Homo sapiens: one gene and its partner. The protein of the gene in region 2 purifies or fractionates together with the protein of the main gene of each other region. This does not show direct contact. Each region holds a gene or a part of one and is shown on either strand. Other genes may lie near its edges.

Region 1 (3,754 bases), on a different chromosome or scaffold from region 2:
CATTGTAACAACTAATGTGGAATTTATTCTGTTCAGGGTCGTCAATGGACTCTTAAACCATGGGTACAGGATATTCCTAGTCTCAAATTATCATCCCACAGATTGCTTATTAACTACAAAGAGAAAAAGATGCCTTTACGTTGAAGAAATCTGGCAATCACCACGTAATCACCATGTTATAAATAGTGGATCAATCTAACTGGATGGGCCTCCTGATGGCAGTCCACATGAAGTACACATCGTCACTTATAAATAGTGACTTAACGTACCATCCAAACCAGAACACTTCTGAGAGCAAAAATAAATAATAATTATGCCAACACAACAGGTCACAGGGCTATCCTGGAGAAACCTGGGAATATGGTCAACCTACCAATGAAGTCTCTATGCCAAACATATTTACTCTAAATCCAATCAAGATTCAGATCTAATTTTCAGTTTACAAGAAATAAAGGATAAAGGAACTAGTCAAGCAACACAAGGAGGAAATAAACAGTTAAAGCCAGGGTGTGTGCCATTCTATAGAAGAACTGGCCTGGACTATTCCAAAAAGGCAATATGGAGGCAGGATGAGAACTGTTCTAGAGAGCTATGAAAACCAAATTTGATAAGTGAAAGTTGATTATAATATAATTTCTTTTTTTTGAGACAGAGTCTCACTCTGTTGCCCAGACTGGAGTACAGTGGCACCATCTCAGCTCACTGCAACCTCCACTTCCTGGACTCAGGTGATCCTCCTGCCTCAGCCTCCTGAGTAGCTGGGATTACAAGTGTGCACCACCAGGCCCAGCTAATTTTTGTATTTTTAGTAGAGATGGACTTTCACCATGTTGGCCAGGCTGGTCTTGAACACCTGGCCTCAAGTGACCCGCCCTCCTCAGCCTCCCAAAGTGCTGAGATTACAGGTGTGAGCCACTGTGCCTGGCCCATAATCCACATTTTAAAAAATGGGCAGAAAAGATGTATTTTGTATAACAGGGAAAATTACAATTTAAACTAGATATTACATATGGAATTATTTTCATTTTCTTAGGTGTGATAACGGTATTGCCATTAGATAGGAGAATGTCCTAGCTCTTAGGAGACAAAGATAATGATGAAGTGTTCAGGGATGAAGTATCATGATGTCTTCTGTAACTTCTTTTCTTTTTTTGGGTGGGGGGCAGGGGAGATAGGGTCTTGCTCTCTCACCCAGGTTTGGAGGGCAGTGGTGCAATCTATGCTCACTGCAGCCTCCGTCTTCTGGCCTCAAGTGATCCTCCCACCTCAGCCTCCTGAGTAGCTGTGGCTACAAGCATGCACCACCAAGCCCAGGTAATTTTTGTAGAGATGGGGTTTCACCATGTTGCCCAGGCTGCTCTGACTGGGCTCAAGTGATCCACCTGCCTCAGCCTCCCAAAGTGCTGGGATTACAGGCATGAGTCACCATGCCCAGCCACTGTAACTTATTTTCAATAGTTCAGGACAGAAAATATATAGAATGTGAATGTGGCAAAATGCTAACTGGTGAATCTAGGCAAAGAGTATGTAGGCGTTTGTGATAATACTTTTTAAACTTTTAATTGTAACTAAATGAAAAGCAGGAATCTGCAAAACATTAAATTAAAAATTCTCTATTTTATAGGTACCCAAATCTAGATACACTTGAAGAAGCAACCATTAACTGAAATGGGAACATTTTTCAAAAAGCAGCCAGCCTTCCTCTACCCCCAACTTTATCATTTCCAGGAGGCACCCTCACAATAAACTCAAGTTTCAACACACGTAAGTATGTGTCATGTTAACCTTGGGTGGAGGCTGAAATGTGAGATATGAATTCTGATGCAAGCAGGAAATGAATGGAAGGGCCACTAGAAGGTTGTAAAGTGAACAATGAAAGTTCAGCTGACAAAGCAGAAATCAGTCTCAGAAAGCAGAAGCAGCACCTCTGCTAATTGTAAAGGAACCCAGGCCAGGCATGGTGGCTCAAGCCTGTAATCCCAGCACTTTGGGAGGCCGAGGTGGGCGGATCACCTGAGGTCGGGAGTTCGAGACCAGCCTGGCCAACATGGCGAAACCCTATCTCTACTAAAAATACAAAAATCAGACGGGCATGGTGGCAGGCACCTGTAATTCCAGCTACTCAGGAGGCTGAGGCACAAGAATCTCTTGAACATGGGAGGCGGAGGTTGCAGTGAGCCAAGATGGTGCCACTGCACTGCAGCCTAGGTGACAGAGTGAGACTCTGTATCAAAACAAAACAAACAAACAAACAAAAAGGGGGGGGGAACCCAAAGGTAAGTGCAACTTTAAATAAAAAACATCTGATACCTTGAACTGGCAGAGAAATGCTAGCATTTCATATTCTATTCTAAGAGTGAAGATAGTTAAGTCATTACTTTTTTCTTTTATACAGTCGAGAAAGCAAACTACAACTAACAAAGAAAAAGCTTAGGAATTGGCAATTTAAAAAAATTTTAAATGCATTCAAATGAGAATGTTTAATTTGTTTTTTTTTTTTACAAGAACTTCCAGATGCTCACTGCATGCTTCTCTCTTTATCTCTGATATCAGATGCTCACTCCAAATTGTTCCATCACAACAGATTTTAGTAACAGCTACTCAAAATAACATGCTGTTATAACTCCTTAATTAAAAGCGCTTTAGTTCAAAAGCCACATTTGATAAGCTTATTTGTTAACTAAAAATAAAATCGGTCTGCAAATCAGAAATTTGATGTGAATATCTACGTGCCATAAAAGTACATGGTTCATGTCCAGTTGAAAAGTACAGCTGCAGACAAAAGGCTTTCTCATGTTCAACTCAGTGTTTTATAAGCAATGTAGCAAAGACTTCAAAAGAGGTGGCCATTTACACAACAGTGTAATTACTTCTAAAATTGCATTTCTAATTTTGCCATATCATTCAAGTTCCATATTTGGACATACACTTAAGACCTGTACTTCTTTTATAATCAGGTGGCTATTTTAAGTCTGCAGGCCAAGACAACACTCATGTTTGTCAAATTTAGAATGCACCTAGCAAACACCACTTGCATTCATGAAACCCAGTGAATGCAGAAGAAATTCCTAATAGCTTGAATTATGTACCAAGAAAGGGTACCTTCTGTCATAGGGTGATAATTATAATTTCTAAACTATGGTTAATGTTTAAGTGAAATCTGAAAAGCTTTGTCTTAATAGAGCTAGAGAGGGAGAAAAGGGGACAAATAAAAATGCCAGGAACTCCTCATCCCTTTTCTTTATTTTCTTTTTTTTTTTTTTGAGACGGAGTCTCGCTCTGTCGCCCAGGCTGGAGTACAGTGGCACGATCTCGGCTCACTGCAAACTCTGCCTCCCGGGTTCACGCCATTCTCCTGCCTCAGCCTCCCGAGTAGCTGGGACTACAGGGGCCCGCCACCACACCCGGCCAATTTTTTTGTATTTTTAGTAGAGATGGGGTTTCACCGTGTTAGCCAGGATGGTCTCGATATCCTGACCTCGTGATCCGCCTGCCTCGGCCTCCCAAAGTGCTGGGATTACAGGCGTGAGCCACCGCGCCCTGCCCCTCATCCCTTTTCTTTTCCTCCCTCCCTCCCCCCTCATCCCTTTTCTCTCTCTCTGAGTTTTTTTCTCAGACAAGGTCTTGCTCTGTCACCCAGGCTGGACTGCAGTGGTGTGATCTCAGTTCACTGCAACCTCGGCTTCCCAGGGTCAAGCCATCCTCCCACTTTAGCCTCCTGAGTAGCTGGGACCACAGGCATGCATCACTATGC
Region 2 (3,754 bases):
GTAGTCCCAGCTACTTGGGAGGCTAAGGTGGGAGGATCACCTGAGCCTGGGGAGGTTGAGGCTGTGGTAAGCAATAATGGCACCACTGCACTCCAGCTTGGGTGACAGAGTGAGACCCCATCTCAAAAAAAAAAAAAAAAAAGAGTGTAAACATTTAATATTTCAGATATTTGAGTAATAAGTTAGTAAGTTATGGTAAATGAACTTCATAAGAAATTGCAACAAATTTTTACTGAGCATTTCTAGCATCTGTTTTTAACTTTGTTATACTTTTTGATGCTTTTAGTGGATTTTCCAGAGATCTGTTTGGTTTTTTGTTAGAGTCCTCACCTTGGTTTCATCTCTGATATTTTCTTTTTCTTTTTTTTTTAATTTAAAACTCATATATTTTTAAGCCTTTGTTTTAAAACATCTCATGTTGGCCAGGTGTGGTGGCTCATGCCTGTAATCCCAACACTTTGGGAGGCCGAGATGGGTGAATTACTTGAGGTCAGGAGTTTGAGACCAGCTTGGCCAACATGGTGAAACCCCATCTCTACTAAAAATACAAAAATTAGCCAGGCGTGGTGGCAGGTGCCTGTAATCCCAGCTACTCAGGAGGCTGAGGCAGGAGAATCGCTTGAACCTGGGAGGCAGAGGTTGTAGTGAGCTGAGATCATGCCACTGCGCTCTAGCCTGGGCAGTAGAGCGAGACTCAGTCTCAAAAAAATAATCTCGTGTTAATTTTGCTGCTGCTTTTTTTTGTCTCTCCATAATTAAAACTTAACGTATTGTAGCAAATATCTACTTCTGATACTAGTTTTTTTAATTGAATTTATCAACATATGTAGAAATTAGTATTATTTAACCTCTTGACTAGCTGTTCTCTAAAAATAAGTCTAAATGCTAGGACATCCTTACTTATTATATATAGAAAATGTGACTTTCAAATGTGGGTCATCTTAAGTATGCTCTCATTGGAGACAAGACTTGTGAGTATTATGCTTCATGTGTGATGGTGTAGTTTTCCAGTATACTTTAAGATTGAAAATGTTGCTCAGGAGACAATTTTAAAGGATGGGTTATTTGCCTATATCTTAATTTTTTATAACTCTACAAATTCTCATTCACCTTGGTGAGGCATATGTAGAAACAGTTTAAATTCTTATTCAGGCATATGTAGATAGAAGTTTGTGCTATTTATTAGTTGGTGTATGTATGCATTATTATAGAGTAATAAAGAATCATTTTATTTTTTGCTTCTTTCATTATGCTTTATAGTACTTACATTTATCATTTTGATATTTAGTGCAAAGAAATGTGCTGCATGCATTGAGCATTTTTCTACAAGTTTTTTTCCCCCTGATGTGCTATTTCACATATCACAGGCCTTATTTTTTGAACAATTGAGCAAAAGAAACAGATGAAACCTCATACAAAACCCTCCAAAATATGAAAATGTGGGGTTTATTTGTGCTAATGCTCTTCTTTTGGAAACATTTGTGTTAAAGGTAAGGTCAATTTATTGATTTAAACCACATTGTATGTAAAAATGTATTATCCATGATTAAACTTTCTAAGACATTGTTCTTGATAGAAAAGATTTTCTAACTTGTGGAATAAAAAGATTTATTTTGCAAGTGTCAGAAATATTAAAATTAATTATTCCCAAGTTTTCTTAAATATTATGCAAAACTTTGATCTACAGCTTTGACATAATTTTCTAGGATCTTATGGTTGGTGATGAGGCAAGTGAATTACGATCAATGTTAGAAGTTAACTACCCTATGGAAAATGGCATAGTACGAAATTGGGATGACATGAAACACCTGTGGGACTACACATTTGGACCAGAGAAACTTAATATAGATACCAGAAATTGTAAAATCTTACTCACAGAACCTCCTATGAACCCAACCAAAAACAGAGAGAAGATTGTAGAGGTGAGTTTTTATGCAGGATATGCATATGTGTATTTCTGTGATATTATGTTAAATCAAAAATTTTCTTACTGTTGCTATGGATAAAGAGAATAAAAATAATTGTTTTCCTTCAGATCTTATTAAGTATCTACTATATGCTAGTCATTATTCTAAGTAGGAAAGTAGGATAGATCAGTAAACAAAAAATCCTACTGCCATGGAGTGTATATATTCTAACAGGGAAAAACAGACCAAAAAAATTAAGTTTTTAATTTAGTGAGTTAATTAAGTTAATTAAGTTTTTATGGAGGAGCCAGCAGAAGGAGACTGAAAAGGCTAATACAATAAGCAGTTACAGAGTTAATTAAATGGTTTGTTAGAAGGTGAGTGATCCAGTTGACCCATGAGCAATGCAGGGGTTAGGGGCACCAACCCTCCCTACTCACGTGCAAACTTAACTACCACCCAAAATACTTAACTTCTAATAGCCTACTGTTGACCAGAAGCCTTACTGATAACATAATATGTATTATATACTATATTCTTAACAATAAAGTAAGCTAGAGGAAATACTGTTAAGAAAATCATGGCCGGGCGCGGTGGCTCACGCCTGTAATCTCAGCACTTTGGGAGGCGGAGGCGGGCAGATCACAAGGTCAGGAGATCGAGACCATCCTGGCTAACACAGTGAAACTCCGTCTCTACTAAAAATACAAAAAATTAGCCGGGCGTGGTGGCGGGTGCCTGTAGTCCCAGCTACTCAGGAGGCTGAGGCAGGAGAATGACGTGAACCCTTGAGGCAGAGCTTGCAGTGAGTGGAGATCGTGCCACTGCACTCCAGCCTGGGCGACAGAGCGAGACTCCGTCTCAAAAAAAAATAAAAAATCATAAGAGAAAATACATTTACTATACCTTAAGTGGATGTAGATCATCATAAAGATCTTCATCGTCATTGTCTTCACACCGACGAAGAAGAGGAGGGGTTGGTCTTGCTGTCTCGGGTGGCAGAGACAGAAGAGGTGCAAGGGGAGGCAGGAAAGATTTATTGACAAAAATCGTGTATAAGTGGACCTGTGTGGTTCAAACTTGTTGTTATTCATGGATCAGCTGTAGATGCTAAAGGCAAAATAAATCAGGTTAACGGGGAGTGGGAGGTTGTAATTGTACATAGGTTGTGAGAAGGTGATGTTTAAACAGACAGGGTAAGTGAGTTAGCCAGGGTATATAGGAGAATGGTATTCCAGATAAAGGGAGTAGCCAGTGTAAAGGTCTTAAGTTAGGAACAAGCTTGGTATATTAAAGAATAAGCAAGGAAGCCAGTGTGGTTGAGGAGAGAGCAACAGAAGATGAGGTCGAGTAAGTAATATTGGTGCCTTGTAGGCTCTAATTAGGAATTGGGCGGCTGGAAGTGGTGGTTCAGGCCTGTAATCCCAGCACTTCTGGGAGGCCGAGGTGGGCGGATCACGAGGTCAAGAGTTCGAGACCAGCCTGACCAACATAGTGAAACGCCATCTCTACTAAAAATACAAAAATTAACTGGGCATAGTGGTGCGTGCCTGTAATCCCAGCTACTTGGGAGGCTGGGGCAGGAGAATCGCTTGAACCCAGGAGGCAGATGCTGCAGTGAGCCGAGATTACACCACTGCATTCCAGCCTGGGCGACAGGGTGAGACTCAGTCTCAAAAAGAAAAAAAGGGAATTGGGCTTTTACTGTGGGTGAAATATGGGGCTGTTACAGGAAAAGGAGATGCTCAGATTTAGATTTCTCTTGTGTTGTGAGTATCCCACAAGGAGGCAAAGATAGAAGAGTTGGAGACTTTTTCAGTCATTTAAGCAAAAGATAATGATGGTTA

The links. Proteins that work in one complex are often made in the same cells at the same time.
Region 1: the proteins of ACTR2 (region 2) and ARPC1A purify together in Homo sapiens (affinity purification with mass spectrometry; 11 studies listed by BioGRID and IntAct, with this or other methods). This does not show direct contact.

The regions. Positions count from the first base shown.
Region 1 is NC_000007.14:99,328,810-99,332,563, reverse strand, and holds part of ARPC1A (actin-related protein 2/3 complex subunit 1A), read right to left. Parts: intron 1-3,754. UniProt on the Homo sapiens protein: Probably functions as a component of the Arp2/3 complex which is involved in regulation of actin polymerization and together with an activating nucleation-promoting factor (NPF) mediates the formation of branched actin networks.
Region 2 is NC_000002.12:65,244,818-65,248,571, forward strand, and holds part of ACTR2 (actin-related protein 2), read left to right. Parts: intron 1-1,706; coding exon 1,707-1,922; intron 1,923-3,754. UniProt on the Homo sapiens protein: ATP-binding component of the Arp2/3 complex, a multiprotein complex that mediates actin polymerization upon stimulation by nucleation-promoting factor (NPF).